2 separate regions of the Homo sapiens genome follow, and region 1 is linked to region 2. Evidence: fine-mapped expression QTL. A gene starts in region 2. The other region holds a variant in brackets. All regions are shown on one strand. Distances are between the middles of the regions. Region 1 overlaps SRP68 (signal recognition particle 68). Region 2 holds the start of SRP68 (signal recognition particle 68).

What was found. PIP is the estimated chance that this variant, and not a neighbour inherited with it, causes the effect.
Region 1: its variant is fine-mapped to the expression of SRP68 in whole blood (TOPMed, PIP above 0.99).

The regions. Positions count from the first base shown.
Region 1 is chr17:76,042,507-76,047,506 of GRCh38, reverse strand. SRP68 (signal recognition particle 68) reads left to right here. Exons shown (of 16, transcript NM_014230.4): 11 at 1,313-1,469; 12 at 2,121-2,215; 13 at 3,549-3,678. Among named protein-coding and RNA genes, the nearest start is that of EVPL, 18 kb to the right of the region's middle. The variant T/C (reference allele first, on the strand shown) is at 3,106.
Region 2 is chr17:76,069,563-76,075,010 of GRCh38, reverse strand. It overlaps SRP68 (signal recognition particle 68), which reads left to right and starts at 2,494. Exons shown (of 16, transcript NM_014230.4): 1 at 2,494-2,703; 2 at 4,567-4,633. The coding sequence starts at 2,520. GALR2 (galanin receptor 2) reads right to left here and starts at 230. Exons shown (of 2, transcript NM_003857.4): 1 at 1-230. The coding sequence starts at 127. RefSeq lists enhancers at 1-165, 1,552-2,379, 2,332-2,381, 2,380-3,207.

The sequences.
Region 1 (5,000 bases), 27 kb after region 2:
TGGCTTACATTTATAATTTCTTAATGCATACAAATGCTAATGCATGTATGTCCATTTTATCAAATAAGTATATATGCTACATTTACATTTTATTTTAATATGCCTAATTTAAGATTTTTATATAGCTTAACTAGAACACAGCCAGGCATGGTGGCTCACGCCTGTAATCCCAATACTTTGGGAGGCTGAGGCAAATGGATTGCTTGAGCCCAAGAGTTTGAATTAGCTGGGTGTGATGGTGCACACCTGTGGTCTCAGATACTCCAGAGGCTCAGGTGGGAGGATCCCCTGAGCCCAGGGAGGTCAAGGCTGCGGTCAGCCATGATCATGGTCATGTCACTGCATTCCAGCCTGAGACAGCCCTGACTCAAGATTCTCAAAACAAAAACGAGAACACAACCAGTGTTTGAAGCTCCCTGCGGCCCTTGCCTCATTTCCTTCCACTCCTAGAGCTAACTGCAACCTTTGCCTCCCGGGCTCAGGTGATCCTCCCACCTCAGCCTCCTGAGTAGCTGGGACCAGAGGCATGAGCCACCATGCCTGGCCTGTTTATTTATTTATTTAGAGAGATGGAGTCTCGCTCTGTCGCCCAGGCTGGAGTGCAGTGGCGCAATCTTGGCTCACTGCAAGCTCCGCCTCCCAGGTTCACACCATTTTCCTACCTCAGCCTCCCAAGTAGCTGGGACTACAGGTGCCCACCACCATGCCCAGCTAATTTTTTGTATTTTTAATAGAGACGGGGTTTCACTGTGTTAGCCAGGATGGTCTCAATCTCCTGACCTCATGATCCGCCCGCCTCGGCCTCCTACAGTGCTGGGATTACAGATGGGAGCCACTGCCCCTGGCCCCCCGTTTTTTTTGTTTTGTTGTTGTTGTTGTTTTCAATTTTTAGAGTCAAGGTTTTGCTCTATTACTCGGGCTGGAGTGCAGTGGTGTGATCGTAGCTCACTGCTGCCTTGAATACCCAGGCTCAGGTGATCTCCTGCCTCGTGAGTTGCTGGGATCCCACTCTCTGTTTTTTGTTTTTTTTTTTTTTTTTTTCCACTGTGTGGTTCTTGAAAAAGGATGCAGAAGGTATAAATCAAGCTAAAAATCAAATTTTGTGATAAGATCTCATGCGGGTCCCCTGCAAACTTGCCACTGGATAGTAGCCAAATGGAGGGTCCCTTGAAGCCCAAGCCAAATGGCCCTGCTGTGGCCACGCCCCCACCCGCCCCCTGCTTCCTCTGGGTCAGCCCCAACTTGTAGTCCAGTCCTCCCAGTTCCTCCGCTTCTCTGAGTATAACTTGAGCTGACTTGTGGTGCATTCCAGCTACCTGACTTACATCAAGCTATCAACGGCAATCAAGCGTAATGAGAACATGGCCAAAGGTCTGCAGAGGGCTCTGCTGCAGCAGCAGCCAGAGGATGACAGCAAGCGCTCACCCCGGCCCCAGGACCTGATCCGACTCTATGACATCATCTTACAGGTGACCCTTGAGGACCGGGAAGGCAAGGGCCTGTGGTTTTCCTTTGCCTGTGTCGGACACAAAGTGACTTAACTTTGTATCACGGAAGGGCTGTGACAAGCAGGACCTATTAGTAGCTGGGAAGAGACAAAGATCTTACACCAGTTCTGCAGTCTGTGAGCCCCTACCTCTCAGACATGCTGATCTGCAGAGAATAGTGACCCCAGATCATCACTGAGCACTTGACCTGTGTAAGACGCTCCCAGGTGCCATAGAGCATCTGAGACCTGAGTCCATGCCATCTCGGCCCCCAGGGAGTTTGTCAGTCAGTAGGACTGTGAGACACACACAGTCAAGGCATCTGAGTAGATGCTAAGCAAAATAAAAGCTCAGCGCTGGAACAGATCCCTTCCAGCTAAGATGGGCCAAGAAGTCTCTGAAGGTGGGTGAGCTGAGTTGAGTTGTAAAGGGCAAATATGTTTCCAAGATCAGAGGGGAGTGGAGGTGACAGCAGGTGTGGCTGCTGCCCAATCTCTTCACAGGCTTTTCCCCATCGTATTGACCTCGGGCTTTTTTTTTTCCTCACTCTTGTCCGTTCTTACAAGGTCTTCTGTCAAAAATTCAACCTAAGATCTACTCTTCATGAATTTTCTTGTTGCATCTGTTGTACAGAATCTGGTGGAATTGCTCCAGCTTCCTGGTTTAGAGGAAGACAAAGCCTTCCAGAAAGAGATAGGCCTCAAGACTCTGGTGTTCAAAGCTTACAGGTAACGTCCCATGGGATGGGCAGTTTTCCTCCGCCTCCCAGGTTCTATAAGCATTGGGAGCATGACCCAGCCCACAGCAGATGGGACCGTTGGCCTTGAGTGTATGGTTACCTTGCCTGTGATCAGAGGAAGGTCAGCCCAGCATGTTCAAGGGGAGTTTCTAAAGGCTGTGGTCAGTAGTGGCCAGTGATGATGTCTGCCTTTTGGCCAGGTCGGAGGAGTGGAGCACACACGTTAAACTTGGCTTCCTCGCTGGGCGCGGTGGCTCACACTTGTCATCCCAGAACTTTGGGAGGCTGAGGCAGGTGGATCACCTGAGGTCGGGAGTTCGAGACCAGCCTGACCAACATGGAGAAACTCCGTCTCTATTAAAAATACAAAATTAGCCAGGCATGGTGGTGCATGCCTGTAAACCCAGCTCCTTGGGAGCCTGAGGCAGGAGAATCGCTTGAACCCGGGAGGCTCACCGCAACTTGGCGGTGAGCCAAGATCGCACCATTGCACTCCAGCCTGGGAGACAAGAGCGAAACTCCATCTCAAAAAAAACAAAAACACTTGTCTTCCTGTACTTTCCTCCTCCCTTCCAGGGGAAAAGGGGCACGCCTTGAAAGGGTGTTAATTAGCAGAACCAGTGTGGCCAGTTCAAGGAACTTGAACTGACTTGGGATAAAGCTAAACTCAGTTTCTTAAATGACTTGTGTCATTTGTAACTTGGAAGTGGGCTGGGTAGCACGATGGGGCCCAGCCAGGATGGAAGGCAGAGCCCCATGCATTCTTGCCCTTCCTCTTGTGGCCCTCACATGCCAGTGTGCTCTGGTGCTCCAGCATGCCCCGTCTTCACTCCATGGCCCCTTCTGTCCTGTCAGGGACCAGCAGCGCTCAGGCTCTGC[T/C]GAGCCCAGGAGAGGAATTTGACTCAGGAAGAACCTTCTGTGAGTTTTGTTTTTGGAAAGCGATGAGCAGAGATGAATGATTGCGACTTGGGTGTGTGGATGGGTTTGGGATTTCTATTTGAGCCGGGCAGCGTTCTTCCTTCCTTCCTGTCCCCAGCCTCACCATGCTCCTTTTGGGAACTGTTCCTCCTCTGCAGAGTCAGCCAGTCAGTAAAAAACCGTGGCTCAGTGTTGGGCCTACCTGGGCATCTCTGATTGCTGGGAAGCATCTCTGCAGGGTAGCCTACAAATCTGAACACTTCCCATGAAGGGGGCTCCCATGCGGTGATCCCACGTTAAGAAACCTGTTTCCAAATGTGAAATTTCGCCTAAACTGCAAGGAAAGCCTTGGTCTTGGGTAATTGCTGCTTTAGAATATTGTGGCTCTTTTCCCTCCCCATCAGGTGTTTTTTCATTGCTCAGTCCTATGTGCTGGTGAAGAAGTGGAGCGAAGCCCTTGTCCTGTATGACAGAGTCCTGAAATATGCAAATGAAGTAAATTCTGATGCTGGCGCCTTCAAGAACAGCCTAAAGGTGAGAGGTTGGCCTCTCCTTGTTTGCAAGCCCTGGCAGGTTATGGAGTCAGCTGTGGAGGAGCTGTGAGGGTACAACAGCTGGGCGCCACCTCAGGCTGGTCCTCCCTGGCTGCCCGTGGGACCTGGTGTAGCCCTGACTGCCCAGGAGCTGCAGGCTGTGTCACTCATGGCTGTGCTCCAGGCCTGAGGAGGATTTAGGTATGAAGAAGGGAAGGCATTTTTCTGATTTAAAAGAAACAAAAACCACCACAGGAAAACCTGAAGTACTGCTCTCAGACTTGACTGCACGTTGAAATCTCTTAGGAAGATTTTTTTCAAGGTAGATGTCTGGGTCGCACCCCCAGAGATTGTGGTTCTAATCAGTGTGAGGGATCTGAAGTGGGCATTGGGACTTAGAAAGGCCCCTTAGTGATTCTGACATGCAACCAAGTGAGAAGCACTGGTGAAGCTGTCCTGCAGGGCATGCGCAAGACCAGCAGCAGCGGCGGGGCCTCACTAGGAATGCAGCCTCTCAGCTCCCACCCGGAACCTTCTGCTTGTTTTCTTTCTTTCTGTCTTTCTTGAGACAGGGTCTCGCTCTGTCACCCAGGCTGGAATGCAAGTAGCACCATCATAGTTCACTGCAGCCTCGAACTCCTGGGCTCAAGTGACCCTCCCACCTCAGCCTCCTGAGTAGCTGGGACTACAGGCATGAGCCACCATACCAGGCCAATTTTTATTTTTTTGTAGAGATGGGGGTCTCACTATGTTGCCCAGGCTGGCCTTGAACTCATGGCCTCGAACTCCTGGCCTCAAGCAGTCCTCCTGCCTCTGCCTCCCAAAACCTTGAGATTGGAGGCATGAGCCACCATGCTGGCCAATATCTGCATTTTAACAAGATCCCCAGGCCATTTGGGGGTCTGTTAAAGCTAAGGAAATGCTTGATCTAAAGTACAGCCACAGGGCTGGATGCAGTGGCTCATGCCTGTAATCCCAGCAGTTTGGGAAGCTGAGGTGGGCAGATCACTTGAGGTAAGGAGTTCGAGACCAGCCTGGGCAACATGGCGAAACTCTGTCTCTACAAAAATAGAAAAAAATAGCCAGGTGTGGTGGTGCACACCTGTAATCCCAGCTACTTGAGAAGCTGAGGCAGGAGAATCACTTGAATCTGGGAGGCAGAGGTTGCAGTGAGCCAAGATCAAGCCACTGCACTCCAGCCTGAGTGACAGAGCAAGACTCCATCTCAAAATAAATAAATAAAGTGCAGCCATGGAAGGCTTTCTTTGCTTTACTTTTTTTTTTTTTTTTTTTTAAGATGGAGTCTCTGTCTCCTAGGCTAGA
Region 2 (5,448 bases):
TGCCCACGGTGCCCACGAGGAAGATGAGCGCGAAGAGCAGGGGCACGATGACCGCCTCGGGGTGCCAGCCTCCCCCGCCGCCCGCCTGGCTCGCGTTCCCGGCCCCTGGGCAGCCCGAGACGTTCATGGTGCCGCTGACCCCGAGGCTGCCCGGGCTCCTGCAGCCGTCTGGGTCTCCGCGAGCGGGAAGCTCCCGGGGCTGCGGCCGCTGCAACTCCTAGTGCGACTCTGCCGGGCTGAAGGCGGAGGGAGCCTTGCCTCATCTGGGGCGGGGATGGGGGTGCGCTGGGGTCAGGAGGAGGAGCAAGAGACAGGAGGGCGAGGTTGTCCCCAGCAGCGGCCGGCGGCGCTGGGGGAAGGGCTGCGGAGTGGTCCCGGCGCGCATTCCACGGCGCAGGCGGAGAGTGGCGCTTGTACCTGCTTCCGAGCTCCAGCCCCCGCAGTCGGGGGTTCTGGGCTGACCAGGCGGACTGACTTCCCCGGCAGACGCCGGAGCGGTGGAGGGGTCGACCCCGGACCCTGCGTGTGCGCCGCGCCGCAGGGAGCACGGACCTCGCACTCCGCGCGCCTCGGCGCTTCCCTGCAGCCTGGCAGGGGTGCAGGATATCCCGGGACCGTCGAGGGGCTGGGGTGCCCTCAAAAGAGGACCCCTGGGAGATCGGGGGGAGGAAACGCGGGGCGGAGGCGGATGAGGGGCCCCGGAGTCTGGCTCTTTCGCCCAGGCTAGAGTGCAGTGGCGCGATCTCGGCTCACTGCAACCTCCGTCTCCCGGGTTCAAACGGTTCTCCTGCCTCGGCCTTCTGAGGGGCTGGGACTACAGGCGTCCGCCACAACGTCTGGCTAGTTTTTTGTATTTGTATTTGTTGAGACAGAGTCTCACTCTGTCGCCCAGGCTGGAGTGTAGTGGCATGATATCGGCTCACTGCAACCTCCGCCTCCCGGGTTCAAGCGATCCTCCTGCCTCAGCCTCCCGAGTAGCTGGGATGACGGGCGCCTGCCACCACGCCTGGCTTATTTTCGTATTTTTAGTAGAAATGGGGTTTCACCATGTTGGCCAAGCTGGTCTCAAACTCCTGACCTCAAGTGATCCGCCCACCTCGGCCTCCCAAAGTGCTGGGATTACAGGCGTAAGCCACCGAGCCCGGCCACCTTTTTCCCTTCTCTTACCCATTGAACGTTTTCCCTCCAATTCAATCCAATATACTGAGCATCTATTGTGTCAGGCTCTGTCTTTGGCTCCATGCCTCAGTTTCCTCAGCTGTAACAAGGAAATGGTAACACTTCCTTCTAAGAGGGATCTGCTGAGAAAGGAATGAGATGTATGGGAGAGTTAGTTAAATCTGAATGCATCAGATCCTTATTCTTTTTCTCCTGACCTTATTCCGTATACCTTGAGGAAATTCAAAATAGAGTTCAGGGCCGGGCGCGGTGGTTCACGCCTGTAATCCCAGCACTTTGGGAGGCCGAGGCGGGCGGATCACGAGGTCAGGAGATCGAGACCATCCTGACCAACATGGTGAAACCCCGTCTCCACTAAAAATACAAAAATTAGCGGGACGTGGTGGCAGGCGCCTGTAATCCCAGCTACTCGGGAGGCTGAGGCAGGAGAATGGCTTGAACCCAGGAGGCAGAGGTTGCAGTGAGCCGAGATCACACCATTGCACTCCAGCCTGGGCAACAAGAGCGAAACTCTATCTAAAAAAAAAAAAAAAATCCGTCATTTAATCTTCCTAACAACCACTTAAATTGGTTATCCCCATTTCATAGATGAAGGAACAGATTTACAGGGAGATTAAGTTACGTGCCCAACATGTCCCTGCCGCTAATGACGGAGCGGGGATTGGAATCCCAGGTCTCAGACTCTAGAAGGTGCAAAGCAAAAATTCATATTTTCCCATGTCTCAACACTTCTCCCTCTTTGGACTGACGGCCCCAAAGTGCAGTGGTCCACGGCCCCAAGCGGTCTGAGAAAGTCACCCCGTTAGGACACCGTCTGCTGACTGCGCAGCGCTTCCTCCGGCTTGGCGTTCTTACGGCCAGCCTCAGAGGAAAGGGCAGGCAGAGGCGGGTCCCTTACGGACGGGGTGTCCCGTTCCGGTAGGGAGGACCCCATCTCTTGAGTCCCTGGGGATGCAGACACCCCGAAATCCAGTATCTTTGGTCTCCTGCTTTCTGCTGGGCAGGACGTGAACCAGATCCCCAGTCCAGGATGCAGGACCTGGGGTCCACCTCCGGTTCTCCGCCCTTAGTGGGTGGGAGGTGGGACTGCCCCCTGAGATCTCAGCAGCCACGGTCTCACTGCGGCCTCAAGTCCCCACCTAGCCAGCCACAATTCCGGACCCGGGATGACAGGATCCCTCGCGCAGGCGCGCTCCAGCACATGGCGCCCTGCTGCAGCAAGGGCCGACGGCGGCGGAGTCCGCCGCTATCCCATCAGCCCGGCCAGGCAGGTCCAGCTCTCACCCGCCCAGGTCGTCCCGCCTCCCCTATCCCGTCTTGCTCTGCGGCGCAGGGGCAAGATGGCTGCTGAGAAGCAGGTCCCAGGCGGCGGCGGCGGCGGCGGCAGTGGCGGCGGCGGTGGCAGTGGCGGCGGCGGTAGCGGCGGTGGACGTGGTGCCGGAGGGGAAGAAAATAAAGAAAACGAACGCCCTTCGGCCGGATCGAAGGCAAACAAAGAATTTGGGGATAGCCTGAGTTTGGAGAGTATCCTAGAGTAATCGGGCCTAACTCGCAATGATTACGTGTCGAACTGGAGGGCTGGGGGCGGGAGAGGCGGCGGGTCCCGACAAGTCCTGGCAGGAGAGGCCGAGGGTTGCAGTTTCTCTCGCCCTTACCTTTTGGTGCTCAGAATTCCGGGGGGGGTCTGTCTCTCGACTAGTCTTTCCTCGTGTCCCCCTCGCCGTCCTGGCTAGGTCCGTTTCTTCCAGTGGCACTGGGATATCAGGCAGGTTTCCCCTGGTGCCCCGCAGTTGTCCAGTTGGAGGGCTTGTGACCAAGTGACACCTTGAGCACCTTGCTTTGGCACCTTGAGCCACTGAACTGGGGAGAGGAAACTGCAGTCTTGACATTTGGCTTAATACTCTTGTCTGACAGTCGTCATAGACTGAGTAGTAAAACCTACAGCTCGATACTTTGAAAGTGGAGGTAAAGATTGACTCAGGAAAAGCTTGTTGCCCATTTTGATTGTAAGTTACCGTAGTTAATATCGATTGTGTCATTTTTTTCTGATCGGTCTGTAGGCATTTTATCTTGCTGACAGTCATTCATATAAGCTGGAGGAATCGGTTTCTAGTTTCCATCAGTGTGTATCTCAACCAAGTGCTTGTGGTACTAGTTTGTGACCTTTTGAAATGAATAACAAATGGAGAAAACGTAGGCGAGTTTCTGAAATAACACATTCAACTTGACATCTTAATGTGCTTAAAGTTCTCAGGCGCTTGGAGTTAAATATTTTGAATTACTGGTAATAGTTCCAAGTAGACGCTAGCGAGCCCTGATTTTACTGAGACCTTTATATCTCTTTGTCCCGTTTTAGTAATTTAAAGAGTCCTTTTAGCGTTCACTATTTTAAAATATGTCTCTAGAGAAGTGTTGAGGAAACATTAAAACTATACCTATATAGATGAAGGTCATTGGACTTTCTAAAGATTAGTACATAATCTTAAATATTTTAAGATTATTAAAAGGAGAATCTGGCCATTCTTCTTTTGAAAGAAAAACCTTAATACTTTTATGCAAACTGTAGCCTAGCTTGGTTGACATGTGCTAATCATAGACTCTCTAAGCATCACAGCTGTTAAGGAAAGTTAGATTTGGCAGGTGTTGGAGATTATGCAAATGGAGGCTTAGTACATGTCATTTATAACCTGAATCTGAATGAATAAAATGTGGGGTCTAGGTGTTAATTGGTGTGAAGCACCCCAATTATAGTCAGCATTTAGAATCCATCAGCTTAATTTAAACTGGGTTTTGGCAGTTTCCAGTGGCCAGTAGTGCCCTCCTTTTTCAGTTTGCAAGTAGTAACAGTTCAGGCAATCAGTTTTCCTGTAGGTTAGCCCTGTCCTGTGACAAGATAGATATTGAAAATGGTTACAAAAGATCTCACCAGTGTACTAAATATTTCACAAATTTGTGTGTGTGTGTGTGTGTGTGTGTGTGTGCATGTGCATGTGTGACTGAATCTCACTCTCACCTAGGCTGGAGTGCAGTGGCGCTGTCTTGGCTCATTGCAACCTCTGCCTTCCAAGTTCAAGCGATTCTCCTGCCTCAGCCTCCCGAGTAGCTGGGATTACAGGTGCTAGCCATTGCGCCCGGCTAATTTTTTGTGTTTTTAGTAGAGACGGGGTTTCACCATGCTGGCCAGGCTGGTCTTGAACTCCTGACCTCAGGTGATACACCCGCCTCGGCCTCCCACAGTGCTGGGATTACAGGCATGAGCCACCGTACCTGGCTATATTTCACAAATGTTTAATGTGTTGTGGTTTGACACAGATATAGACTGATGGTACAGGTTTTGATTTGTTTGGATTCTTGCTATGGTAAGATTTTCCTTAATCTCGACTCTAGTTCTTCAGATTATTAAGGAATCCCAGCAGCAGCATGGTTTACGGCATGGAGATTTTCAGAGGTACAGGTTAGTATCACATACAAGATGTTTGGAAATCATTGTGGGACTTGCTTTGCTTTTGTTAATATCCTGTTTACTCTGCTATATCAGCAAATATGCTAGAAAGTCTAGAGCATTGTTTTTTTTGTTTGTTTGTTTGCTTTGTTTTTTTTTTTTTTTTTGAGATGGAGTCTCGCTCTGTCGCCAGGCTGGAGTGCAGTGGCGCAATGTTGGCTCACTGCAACCTCCACCTCCTGGGTTCCAGCGATTCTCCTGCCTCAGCCTCCTGAGTAGCTGTTTTTTTTGTTTGTTTGTTTGTTTGTTTTTTGAGATGGAGTCTCACTCTGTCACCCAGGCTGGAGTGTAGTGGCGCAATCCTGGCTCACTGCAGCCCATGCCTCCCGGGTTCAGGTGATTCTCCTGCTTCTGCCTCCAGAGTACCTGGGATTATAGGCATGTGCCACCATGCCTGGCTAATTTTTGTATTTTTAGTAGAGATGGGGTTTCGCCATGTTGGCCAGGCTGGTCTCAAACTCCTGACCTCAGGTGATCCACCCACCTCAGCTTCCCAAAGTGTTGGAATTACAGGCGTGAGCCACCGTGTCTGGCCTATTTCTTTTTTTTTTTTTCTTTTAAATAATCTATACCCTGGTAGCTTTGATTGAGATGCTGAAGTAGTATTTATTTTATTTATTTTTGATACGGAGTCTCACTCTGTTGCCCAGGCTGGAGTATAGTGGCGCGATCTCGGCTCACTGCAACCTCCGCCTCCCGGGTTCAAGTGATTCTTCTGCCTCAGCCTCCTGAGTGGCTGGGACTGAAGGCACATGCCACCATGCCCG